Linked DNA regions of Homo sapiens. The protein of the gene in region 2 purifies or fractionates together with the protein of the main gene of each other region. This does not show direct contact. Each region holds a gene or a part of one and is shown on either strand. Other genes may lie near its edges. The genes, in order: POF1B and ZDHHC23.

Evidence for each region.
Region 1: the proteins of ZDHHC23 (region 2) and POF1B purify together in Homo sapiens (affinity purification with mass spectrometry; 2 studies listed by BioGRID and IntAct, with this or other methods). This does not show direct contact.

What each region holds. Positions count from the first base shown.
Region 1 is NC_000023.11:85,369,508-85,376,709, forward strand, and holds part of POF1B (protein POF1B), read right to left. Parts: intron 1-7,202. UniProt on the Homo sapiens protein: Plays a key role in the organization of epithelial monolayers by regulating the actin cytoskeleton. May be involved in ovary development.
Region 2 is NC_000003.12:113,957,853-113,963,915, reverse strand, and holds the end of ZDHHC23 (palmitoyltransferase ZDHHC23), read right to left. Parts: intron 5,554-6,063; coding exon 5,286-5,553; 3' UTR 4,396-5,285; coding exon of another isoform or gene 4,373-4,395; 3' UTR 3,197-4,372; coding exon of another isoform or gene 3,183-3,196; 3' UTR 543-3,182; downstream 1-542. UniProt on the Homo sapiens protein: Palmitoyltransferase that could catalyze the addition of palmitate onto various protein substrates and be involved in a variety of cellular processes.

The DNA.
Region 1 (7,202 bases), on a different chromosome or scaffold from region 2:
CTATGTATAAATAGTAATATTATTGCTTTCATTGTTCTACAACTTAAACCAAACAGTATCTCTTGTATTATGTACTAGATACATGTTTTAACTCATTATTTTCAATTAATAGTATTCCAAAATGCTTGCTTTATAGCTTGTTTTTATGTTTTCCTGCTGATTAACATTTATATTGTTTCCAGGTTTCCACTGTGCTGCAATGAGCATCCTTGTGCAACATGTTTCTTTAGAATCCCACACAGAATTGGGATTGCTGGGGCATGGAGTATGTGTGTTATTCATTTGAACAGATACTGCCCAACTAATTTCCCAAATTTGACTATGATAATTATACATCCACCAGCAGTGTGTGAAGGTATTCATGTCTAGAGGATGTTTGGTCTGTTTAGGCTGGGGCTAATAATATTATACTAGTATCATTCTGAGAAGACAACTATACACATGGTTAGTATCTGGTAGCTGTTGTAGAAATGATAGCTCTGTCCTTCTTGTAACCAATTCAAATATGATGGCATTAGCAAATGAAACATAGCAAATCTTACTAGCCAACTGGACTAGCTTTTAAGATACAAAAGCGTACTAAGAAGTTTTATAAATCTGCAGAAATTTAAACAAATAGGAATACACACACATCACACATCACAGATAAAGACATTTATTTATGCTAGTATAAGCAGTATTACTTTATTCAGATGTTAAGATAATAGATGTTTAAATGGCAAACAGTTGTATTTGAGCAAAGACTAGTCTTGCCCTAAAATGAAGGAATTCTTTAATCTTCTTATATGTGGAAAGCTGGAACATTAAGTCCATAGATTATAATGTACTCAATTATTTTTAGCCCTACTTCAGCCTTCATTATTAAAATTGATCATCTAGACAAATGTGGCTTTCCCACGCAACCCTCATGGAAACATTAGAGAACAAATATAATAGGTTCAAAAATTACAACATTAAGATGTAGCTTAATATGAGTCAAAGATATTTAGACATATGGTGTTGAACAGCATGAATTTAAATTGCATCAGTATGGATTTAGGCTGATCATAAGGGGGAAAACCTCTCTGAAAATAGGTTTATTAATTCCAGAAATACTTGCTAAAGAAAACCCCTTTTCCCTGGAAGTCTACAAAATTAAGTAAGATGGTGTGAGTAAATGTCCAGAATGAACAAAACCTTGATGTTGAAAGGTACTTTCAATGGCATCAAGATCTAGGCAAGATTGCAGCAAGTCATCCCATAAATAGCCATTGACCATTCCATAGAAAGTGATCCAAAATATTTTTGAAAGAATGAATGAAAAGGAGATCTTAGTTTTAAAAGCACTCCAGGAATAACAATCCAAATCTCCCTCTTAATAACCTGTATCAGTCAGTGTTTAATTTTGTTACTCATCTGTGTATAGCTTACCTAAATCCTTCATGTTGAAACTATTAAATTCAATGAACAGTCAATGTTTTTGTTTTTATGCCTTTTGTGCCACAGCCCCACATTCCTGATGACCAAATAATTGAAGGCGATAATGGGGTGGTGGTGGTTATCATGACATAGTGGAAAAAGTGCTAGACTTGGAGTCAGCAGACCTGGATTTTATTCCCATTTATACTACTAGCCACTTTTGTAATACTGGTCAACTCATGTTCTCTCTCTGAGATTTGTTTCCTCATGTGAGAAATGAGAAATGGGATATGGGTGTGGGCGAGTGTGGATTAGAGGATCTTTAAGTTTGTTTCTGACGTTCTGTGAATATAAGAGACCATTCCCAACTTATTTTTCCATACAAACAAAACAATTTCAAATTTTTTAAACTTGTCAGTATTGTTTTCCTTTTGATGATGATTATAATGATGACTAACACCTATTAATAGCTTTCTGTGCCAAACATGTTACATAGATCATTCTCTTTAACACTCAAAATAACCCCATAAAGAAGATACTATTATAACCCCATTACATAAACAAGTGAAGTTAGACAGAGGTAGGATAGGTAACCAGATGGAGATTACACAGCTAATGCTAAGGTGCTGGAATTCCAACTCAGCATGACTCCAGAACTCATGCTCTTAATCACCATATTTTGCCACGTTTATTGCTTGCTTCATTATATTTTCTGTTTTTCAAGTTGTGTAACCTAATTATATGGTTAAGTTTGACTAGTCCTTATAACAGAAGGTCAAATACTGGGACTTTTAAAATTATTCAGTGTCAAAAGCAACTTTGGAGGCCTGAAAATAAGACACCCACCCACAAGTAGCTGTGTGAGAGAACAGCCTTGATTAGATAATTTAAGTTTCCATAAACTCAATAGAATTTGTAAAACGCGTGGTACATTTACAGAGTGTACTCACAAGCCTCTAAAACTCAATAAACCATTGAATTTTTGTTTAATGCTCATATCATCTAATCTCTTCAATTTTGCAGGAAGACCTTACTTTTTCTGATAAAATATTCAGCATTTTGTTGAGTCGTTTATTCCTGTGGGTCAGACTTGCTATATACACAAACATTATACTTTATTGGCAACTTTAAGTAGAGTCTGGTGAAAAAGAATTTGGGGCCGGGCGTGGTGGCTCACGCCTGTAATCCCAGCACTTTGGGAGGCTGAGGTGGGCGGATCACGAGGTCAGGAAATCGAGACCATCCTGGCTAACATGGTGAAAACCCGTCTCTACTAAAAATACAAAAAAATAGCCGGGTGTGGTGGCGGGCGCCTATATTCCCAGCTACTCAGGAGGCTGAGGCAGGAGAATGGCGTGAACCTGGGAGGCAGAGCTTGCCGTGAGCCGAGATCGTGCCACTGTGCTCCAGGCTGGGCGACAGAGCGAGACTCTGTCTCAAAAAAAAAAAAAAAAGAAATGAAAAAGAATTTGGTTTATAATTATGTGGGCTTGGGGATAATTTCATTACATCACTTGAGATAATTGTCCATACCTTTGTACACACTAAATCTGAGCTAGGAAACTCTGGTTTCCCTAGAGAATTCATTATTCATAAAAGTATATCTTATTTCCACCTATTTGTTAAAAAAGCTGTTTTCAGGGGAACATCACACACAGGGGCCTGTCAGAAGATGGGGACCTAGGGGACGGATAACATTAGGAGAAATACCTAATGTAGGTGACGGGTTGATGGGTGCAGCAAACCACCATTGCCCGTTTATACCTATGTAACAAAACTGCCCTTTCTGCACATGTACCCCAGAACTTAAAGTATATATATATATAAATATATTTTATTCATATTTATATATATTATATTATATATACTATATATATATATACTTTAAGTTCTGGGGTACATGTGCAGAAAGGGCAGTTTTATATATAAGCTGTTTTCAGAGTTAAATCAGATGATGTGCAAATGGCCTAAATGTCTCAGTTATTTACTTTAGTGAAAATGCTTTTGAGTAGCTCAGTGCAGTAAAGAAAGAAGGGAAGGCAGAAGCTCAAAAGGTGTTATTCTCCTTTGAAAGAAAGAAAACCTTAAAAACTTAATATATACCCTGAATTCTAGGATTATTTCTGAGCAAGACCTTGAAAACTAGAGGGAAAACTATTTTTGTCCTCTAATGTATTTTTGATATTTTCCATTCTGATAATGGAACATTAGAATGGGAAAATATACAGTAAGGGTAATCATCAAATGTTTTGTTGAAATAAAAAATGTGAACTAATTTAAACTGAAATCATGAATATCGAAAGTTAATTAAGGGAGATAGCTGATGTAATGAAAATATCAGGAGCTGGTTTTTAAACTCAGGGCATTCACTAACCAGCTGTACTAAATAGGCAAGTTATTTTGAGCTATTCGAGTCTCAATTTCCTTATTTGTTTAACAGATAAATAATACACAATGAATATTGTCTTTATTTGTACATCGTACAATTTGTACAATAAACATAATAATGCATGTTTTATCTAATTGTTGAGGTTCTATCAAGTTGTTTACTAGATAATCATATACATGGAAGAGTTGTGAAAAACAAAAAACCCATGTATTAATATGAAATATTATTTTCACTGGATTGATTATATATGTGACTAAGTTACTAACTTGCAGTTTCTTTACTACTTATTGTGTAGTGGCATTGAAAGAGATACAAATGATGTTAGAATATAATCTCTACCCTCTCATGGTTATAATCATGTAGGGCATAAACACTATGAGTACAAATAGGAATTAAGTAGACTATCATAAGACCTATAAGAAGCTCACTAGGTAAGTTTTGAGGGCTAAGAGATAACTTCAACCTGGGACAATCAGAGGATCAGAAGGTTACACTTGAGGAAAGGCTTGAAAAATTTGTATAATTTCAGGGTGTCTAGATTGGTGAGGGTGAGGAGCAGGAGCAGTTCAGATGTAAGAGCAATGGAGTGAAAGACATAGCTGTGGAAAATTGGGGACTTTATTTAGAGAACAATCATTTACACTTAGCTAAAACATAGGACACCAGAAGGAGAGTTCCAGGAAGTTCCACAGGAGCCCTAACATGGAGGGCCTTGAAAGTCAGACTAAGCAATTTATAGATACTTAGTGTCATTGAAGGTTTTTGCAGCAGAGGAGTGATATGGGATGTGTATAGGGAATTTAAGCAACTTTTCTAGAGAACATATTCTTAGGTGTAATTAAAGTTGTGGAGATTTTAAAATTAATATTCCTAGGGACTCCAACTAGACTGCTTCATAGTTCTATTCTGCCAAAGTTCACCTCATGATTGCATATTTATTTACAGCTCTTCCTGAGACATTCCACATAGACCTTTTTGGGCATTTTCTTCATACAATTTTCTCTGCAATTGGTCTTTAGACTGCAAAATCTGAACCTCTTCAGTCAAGACCTGTTGGCTTCATTTTCCTGTTGATAGCTGTGGTCAAAGAGCTCAAAAGCCTGGTGTAAGACATACAAGAAAGACTGAAGGTAATGAGAATTAAATCATAGAGAATATTACATACGTAGTGCAGGCTTTGTTTCTAAATATTTGGAAACTTGCTAACATGAAAGTATAACTCTTTATGTTGTCTAATTTGAATTTTAAAACTTTACATAAAGACTAATATACAGTATAATATTCCATGAAGGAAAACCATGGAAGGTTTGTGTATGCTCCTGTTACTCCCAATGACTATGAGAATCACTGAAGGTAATAATGGTGAGTTACAAATACTCTAGGCTGAACAGTTTCAAAAGAAGCAATATCTTTAAAAACCACCTGACATTTATGCTGACAGAATTTGCCAAGGCAAACCTCCATTTGAATAAATTCCCTGAATAGTATGGGAGATGTTTTTGTTAGGATCTTTCAAAGCCATGTAACATAGTTAAACACCTGTCTGAGGTTATTGTTGAGATGTTATACTCAACTTATATAGCAAGAAACATGTTATTTATAATAATCTCTCTTTAGATGAAATAAACACTTCTTTGATTTAGGATAAAATCTGTGTTTCTGTTGTCATACAAAGAAAGCAACCGAATGTATAATAGAACTACTTCCTGTTCCTCCTTCTCTCCAACCCAAATCCCTCATTTAAGAGGTCCATATTGGGTTCTTTCTCTTCTTTTTCTGAAGAAAACTAGGAGACAGAGAGAAAATAAAATACACAGTCTTTTTTGCAGTGCATGCTTTCTGTCTTTAAAAATTATGAGTATATATACTTTATTGAAAATCAAAAAATGACCTCTACTGGGATAGCCCCTGGTCTGAAGAAAAAGTTGGCTGAAATATATTTATTAATAAAAGTTTTAACTTTTAAATAGGGCTTAAGAGCATGGCAAATTTCCCAATTGTTTTGTCATGAATTGTCAAGAAAATAAACTTGAAAGGACAGTTTCCCTCTCTTCCACTTGCCACCCTCATATCTTGCCACACACACACCGTGACAGCTTATGAGTGCCTTTGACTGAAAACAGGCCCAGCAATTTATCAGACCTCCGTTAAACAAGATACAATTGCCATGGGCATTTTCACTCAGCAATTAGTTGCACTCTCCAATTTCTATAGCTTCATTTAATTGTAAGCACAAAAGAGGAGACCAAAGCTGAAAATGCAACCCCTTTATCCTATGACCTCATTCTTTTTTCAGGCAGCGCACTTCCTTGAACAATCATTCACTTTAGTGACTACGCCCTTGAACAACAATTTATCAAAGCAGCACACCCCTCCCCACAGAACGGGAAACTTTTCTGATAGTGGAAGAGAAGAGTTATCCACAATCTTTGCAACCAAAGAAAAAGCACAAAAAAATCATATAAACAAAGGTAAGCCCCAGCTGAATAATTGTTGAGAACAGAGGTCATTCGTAAACACACATTTTCCCCCAGGCTGCTCTCTAGAGTTTCTTTGCAAGTTTCAAATTCAAAAGAATGGCAACCCTTATAACATATACACTAAAATAATCCTTCTCTCACAAAAGCATGTTTTACTTGATAAAATGCTGATGGTCACAACACAAAATACTCCTTTAAAATGAAATATAGATAGACACATGGGACACCTACAGACCAGGCTCTGTATGTCTGTCCTAAAAATGAACTCTCCCTGGACAGGTTAATGGTATTTATCCAGAAAATCACAGTGTTTGCTAAAAAATAGGCACTTAATAAACATGTATTCAGTGAATGACTGGTATTTAAAAATATTTTATTTTAATCCATTTTTTCTCTCTCACATTTTTTCTCTCTCATGTATACAGCTGCTCTGTATGCATGAAAAATACCTCGAACTTCATGAAAACCTTAATTAGTGGAAGGAAAGAATGTTAGCCCAATGAGTAATTCATATCAATGTTGCTCATTTAAGGCATTTCATTTTGAGTTAATGATGGTAGGTTAACAGCTAAGCTTTGTAAAAGATTGAACTAAGAATTTTTGTTTTACTTTAAGCTTCTAGAACTCTATTTATTTGCAAGACCACATTCAGTTCTAAAATGCATCTGAGACCTTGATTATATCTGTGTTTGACTATACGTGTTCATGCAGATAAACCCAGTAATTTTAATTCTACCATTAATTTAGAAAATTTCACCAGCAACTGGTTTCTACACTTAATTTTCTCTGAGAAACACTCTATCAATCAAACAAAATAATAACCAAAAAACATAAAATATATGTTTAATTAAAGAAACAAAGTAACATTATATATCTAGATAAATTTAAAATATGTTTATATCCATAAACACCATTTTAGTGCACAAGAGGTTAAG
Region 2 (6,063 bases):
ATGGCCACTAAAGAAAATGTAACTAAAAGTAATTCATAATACATCACTTTCCATCAAAATCACTAACAGTTTAAACCTAACTACAGTACATTTACAAAATACTGGCTGATATTAGCACCCGGAAATGAAATACCAATTTTATTATTTTGTTTGTTCTGTGTTTTTTTTGTTTTGAGACAGGGTCTCACTCTGTCACTGTACTTCAGGCTGGAGGTAGAGTGGCCTGACTATGGCTCACTGAATCCTGGACCTCTCAGACTCAGGTGATCCTCCCACCTCAGCCTCTCAGATAGCTGGGATTACATGCCCAGCTAACTTTTTTTTTTTTTTTTTTTTTTTTTGGTAGAGATGGAGTTTCACCATGTTGCCCAGGCTAGTCTTGAACTCCTGGGCTCAAGTGATCCTCTCAGCCTCCCAAAGTGCTGAGATTACAGGAGTGAGCCACCACACCCAGCCACCAGTTTTCTTTAAATGCCAAGCCTGTACATAAGGTTGAGTTCCTTAAGTCAACATGCCAGGCGCATAAATAAATCCCACAAAGCTTAAGTTTTCTACCTTAGCTTTATTTTTGCCTCACCTCAAACATCAACTAGAAATTGAGTCTTTAGCAGCCCATATTCCAATGGCGCCAGCTAGACTTTTTACCGAATACAGAGCCTTCTAAAGAGATACAATGGAAATAGTTTTGATGCTGTTTTTTGCTGGACTATCATGAAAGTATGTTTCAAAATGTTACTGTTAACATAATGCCCCAACAAGCAGTATCCCTGACCCACAAAACTGGAGAAATTGCCACCGGGAACATAACAGTTTAGGGCTAGGGACAGGGCCACAGGATAGAGACATTGAGGGAGCCACAGAGGCAGCACAGGTATAATGCAGGGTTTTCAGAAATCAGAAGACTTCAGGAGACACTCCAAGAAACACCAGCTATTTTCCTTAAAGAAAGCACTTTATTTTCCATTTAAACAACTTGGTCACAGGACGTTATTTTACATAAATGGAAGTAATTTGTAAAATTTCCATGTAAAAGGCCTTGTGTCTGAGTCTGAGGTGATAAGAGGATATGAATACAAGTATATAAAAACAGTGCAAAATGTGCAGCCCACAGCCTCCGGAGTTGGCTTCAGAAATCCCCCTTAATGTTGCTAGACCAGTTACATTAAATATTAAATGTAACACCAGGTAAATATTCCTGGGTTTCCTTTAGTCTAACATCCAACCCAGATATGCAATAAAATGAAAAACTCAAAATCCCTAACAACTCAAACCATCCAATCACCCAGACCATTAGGATCACAATGAGTTGAGACTGCAGGCTCTATACTGTGACATCTCGTCAGTGGCTCCATCTTAAGAAATACAGAATTTTAGTTGCATCAGTAACTAGAATAGACTAGCTCTGCTTTTAAAGCTTTGCCTTTTAAATGTAGATTTCTAGAAGTTCACTTTCAAGGTGCCATCAAGAAGGCTAGGCCACTAAGAAGTCACAAGCCCAACCTAGACATCGCAGCCTCTTAAGACATTTGTCTTCACTAACCGTTCAGTCTTTAACCTGCTGCTGATCCTACAATGAAAACACTTAGTGCCAGCTGAAGCGTGGATGCTTGTCTATCAGCAACATAATTAAGTGTAGCTGATTCTGCAAGAAATTTATATTAGTCACAGCAGACATCCACAGGAACATACTGAATCGTACTCAGTAGTGAGTTTAGGATGGCTTTCCTGCTCCCCTGCATCACCCTTGCAGTGTTTAATACAAAAGGGTGCACATGTCAAGCTGCCGCTGAGAAAACCAGATTCCAAACAGGTGCCTCAGGAAAAGTCTCTTATTATCCATTGCTTGCTTAAGCAACCTCTACTTTTCAAAATGGAAGGTACCAGAATATGGCTACAATTAAGTTAGGTCATATAAACTTACCTAGGTTAAAAAGACCCTTAAGTCTCACAAAACTGTAATTTTTAAACATCCTGGCTAAAACTGTGCTTCTAGATGTTATATTTTTGCTTATACTAGTTGAGCTTTATAATCAAAAGCTAATGTCCTACTCAAAGGAAATACATGTCTATTAAGCAGATGGTCAGTGGTATGTAGAACCTTACTGGCACTGTGTTTTCTGGCAGTGGAAGATTCTAGTACAGAAAATTGTCTCTTGCTAAAAATATTAGAAGTACCAAGGACTATTGCATAAGAGAAAGTTTGTAGCAATTTTTTGCTAGGCAGATGGTACACTTGAAGACAACAATGACTTCATTCACCAAGGAAAACACTACTTAGCAAAGATTTACAATATCCTAAACACAAACACATATGTGGCTGAGGTGGAATAAGCAGCACGTTGTCCCAAAAACACACTTAAGGCTTTACTTTAGCAGCATCAGGGTAACCTATCAAAGAGGCGCTGTTAATGGTCAGTTCATTTCAGGAACGCTCGGCTGGAACCATAAAAGTGCTCCGTGGGTATTGTAAGAAACATTTTAAATATTGAAGGATTTTCTTCTTTCATGCAATCCTGATCCTTAATCTTTCTCCCTTGAATCTTTCAAATCGGTCTGTTCTTCTCCCCCCAGGAACAGTCCACAGTGGTGTGATAATAATCTAAGTGGCCAGATGATAGTAGGTAATTTATTAAACTCCACATCCAGTATGTTCATTAACAGAGACTAAGGACGTGAGATGAGAGAAGAGGACCTGCTTGTTTGAAATCATGTTCGAGGGGCTTGCTCCTCTGCCCAAGAGACTGCTGATTTATAGGTTCACCGGGCAATCCTCCACTGCCGCCACCACCAAATGCTTCCCTGGGACTGATTCATTCACAGAGGCCTTGTCCTTTCAAAGATTCCACAATAAACTCATCTGGCCCCTGGAGAGAACCAAGGCCTATAATGAAACCCCTCAAATAGTTCCAGATCATAAAAGGCTCCAAAATCCTATAAACCAAAGATGTCACAGAGCCTACAGAACACTGCTCATGGATTAGCCCCTTGTTTGCTGCTCCTTTCGGTACAGACGCCTGGGAAGGCTTTTCCCACACAAGATCACTCATCTTTTGACAGGTTTAAGCATTCTGTCAACTGTCCATCATGGGTTCTCAAGGAACTTAAAACAAGTATCTTCGTGCCAATAAACCTGAATAATACACAGAGTCCCTTCCTATCCATGGGAAGGAAGCGGAGTTGGCTCATCCAAGTAACCCTATTAGAGGTAAGTTGTTAAAAAAAATTGTCATCATTCCTAATTCTCCCAAATTATTTTGGTCTCTTTGTACTACTTATCTTCATCACATCACATTACATTTAGATGTTGTGAACAATTTGGCAAGAAGCTAAAATTACTGACTAATGTTTCTATCAATTTGTATGATCAATGGCTAGATAATCAGAGTTGGCTCTACAGCTGACATTCAAAAGCACGACTACCAATTTCTGCCCACACAGGCTATCCTTGACATTATTACTGTCTCTCTTATGTAAAACCTGTATAGAAAGAAATTTGTTATATCAAATCCAACTTTAATTCTAGATGAATATTCAGCTCTGGGCCAGGGAGAAGGCATCACTGTACAAACCCCAGAGTCTGCTAACATCCCCAGGCACAGAGCCTATCATTCGTTAAACAAACCATCTCTGGGGAAAATGACAACAGCCTGAATAAGAATATGGTGACCATCTTAAGGACAGCTCCAATTAATGGCAACAGTAGGGACGGTGCTGGCTGCAGAGGGTGGAAGTGCAGGAAGTAGCAATATTTCCTCTCAACAAATATAAATCTCTTGCTTAAAGCAGCATGCACAGAATGACTGAAAACGCTGGCAATATTTTCCCTATATTAAGCTATAAGCCAAGGCAAATTTAAGGAGTCATGAATTATCTTTGGGATTGCACAACAGTACATGTTCAAAACTAACATTTCAAAAGGGTATTTTCCTCATCTGAAATTCCCTCATCTTAATTCTATAGTAGAACAACCCATTGTACATAAATATTTAATCTTTTATACATTTTCGGTTTTAAGATATGATTAAAGAAACAACTTGTTATTGTCGGAAGAGCCAGGGAAGAACAGTAATCCATTAATAGTGGAAACCACATATACCCTGTTTCTTCTCTCTTAGTGAGATACTGTTATTTAGGGAGGGGTAATTGAGAATTAATGTGCAAGTTAAGTGGGAAGATGTCACTCAACTCCTCAAAGTTCATACCAGAATAATGTGAATGCCAGAAGGCTGATTTTCACAATTTAGTGCTATAACTGACAGCATTTGAAATACATGAAGAAAATAATCGAGCCCGTGATGTTACTCAGCCTTCCTACCAGAAAAGAGAGTAAAGCATCCCCACAGGAGTGTCTGTTCTCCTCTTCCAGCCACAGTCACAAGTGTGCTAGCACCTTACCTGGTGAAACATGGGAAGAGGAAAAACACATGAATGCCTGTTGGAGTTATTTATAAGAAACCCAAGCAGAATTTATAAAATATAAATAGAAGAACTCATCACCTAAACTCATGGCCACACTACATTACACTAGCAATAATTATCTTTATAACTGTTGTCAACTGTCTTTTCAAGATGAGACAACTTAGCATCAATCCATCTGGTCATCTTCTCTGTTTGAGTAGTTCATGTCTAATAAGAAGGAGAAATTCTCATAACTGTACAACAAGGTATATGCTGAAAACTGATTACCCTAATAATATTGGCTTCAATATTCTAGACTATAAACGTTTTTCTTCCATCATAATATTTTCCTAATACTTTGTATTTCCATGGCTCTTGAGTTGTTTTTTAGTGCTTTCCACATCCATCTTCCCTCACGTGACCCTCATGACGGCTCTGTGAGGTAGCCAGGGCAGGCATCAGTACCCCACTTTGCAGATGACCCTGAGACTTGGGAAAGTGACTCAGCTAGGGGTCACATGGCTATTAAGAATCGAAAGAGGGACTAGAAACTATCCTAATCCAACACTCTTTCCTCCATACTAATGGATGGGAATTGCTTCTATCAATTTGTGCATTAGCAATCCACATCCTTCTCAAGTTCAGGCAACTGAGTCAATTAAAAAGGTGACTGGAAAGGAATGGCTCTACTTTTACTGCCTCAGTATAAAAGTCTCTTAAGTTGTGGCGTCAGAAAAATTAACTTCTTCCCACTCCAGTCTCTAAACCTGAGCATGGCCCTATAATGCCTTTAAGAAACTGGGGATAGAAATGGACACTGAAGTGTAAAATGGAAGGGAGACGGAAGGAGGAGCCATCATCCCTCAGAGAGCCACATAGAAGGCACTTCAGACAATGTCCTCGGCAGGGTGGTGGAATGCACGTGTGCCCAGGGTGGAGAACTGGTGCCAGTTCCGCAGGAAGCCCCTATTGTACTGGCCTGTGTCCACGATGAGCCCGCAGAGGAGCCGGCGCCCAGTCTTCTGTCGGAGGGCCTGCTGGACTTCCCGCTCAGTCACATTGTAGCTGATGTTGATCAGCTGGATCAGGAAGATGTAGGCCATGCCTGCTGTGATGATCACAGAGTACCACACGCAGGTGAAGGACAGAGCCGAGCTAGGAGAGGGAAAAAGGCTGTCAGGGCTGCCGTTTTTGTCAAATTCAGAAAACTGTCATCATTCTCACGTTTTACACATTTTTTTACTTATTACTAAAGACTTTGGCATCTTCCCCAACCCTCCGAACTGGAAGATACTCAGAATGCCAATAACCTGCTTAAGTAGGAGAATGTGTGTGTTTATTCTATAATTACTGGTGCCTATTTTCTAGTATATTACACTAGAATAGCAGGGACTGTTTTTTGCATTTTGTACCCTCCACACACCCAGCACGCTGCCTGACATAACAGCGTTCAACACCTGTTTGTTAAATAAACAAGTAATTCGTAAATTACATCTAACTCATGAGAAAACAAAGGCACCAAGGGACTGCTATAAATGTCTTCTAGGAAGCTGCAGGTGGATGCCGAGGAACAGTGCTAAAGTTACTAATCTCCATTCTTTCCAGTCCAATGCTGAGGAATGAAAAGACGATGGACGACTCCCAACCCCAGCAGCCCTGTGCTTA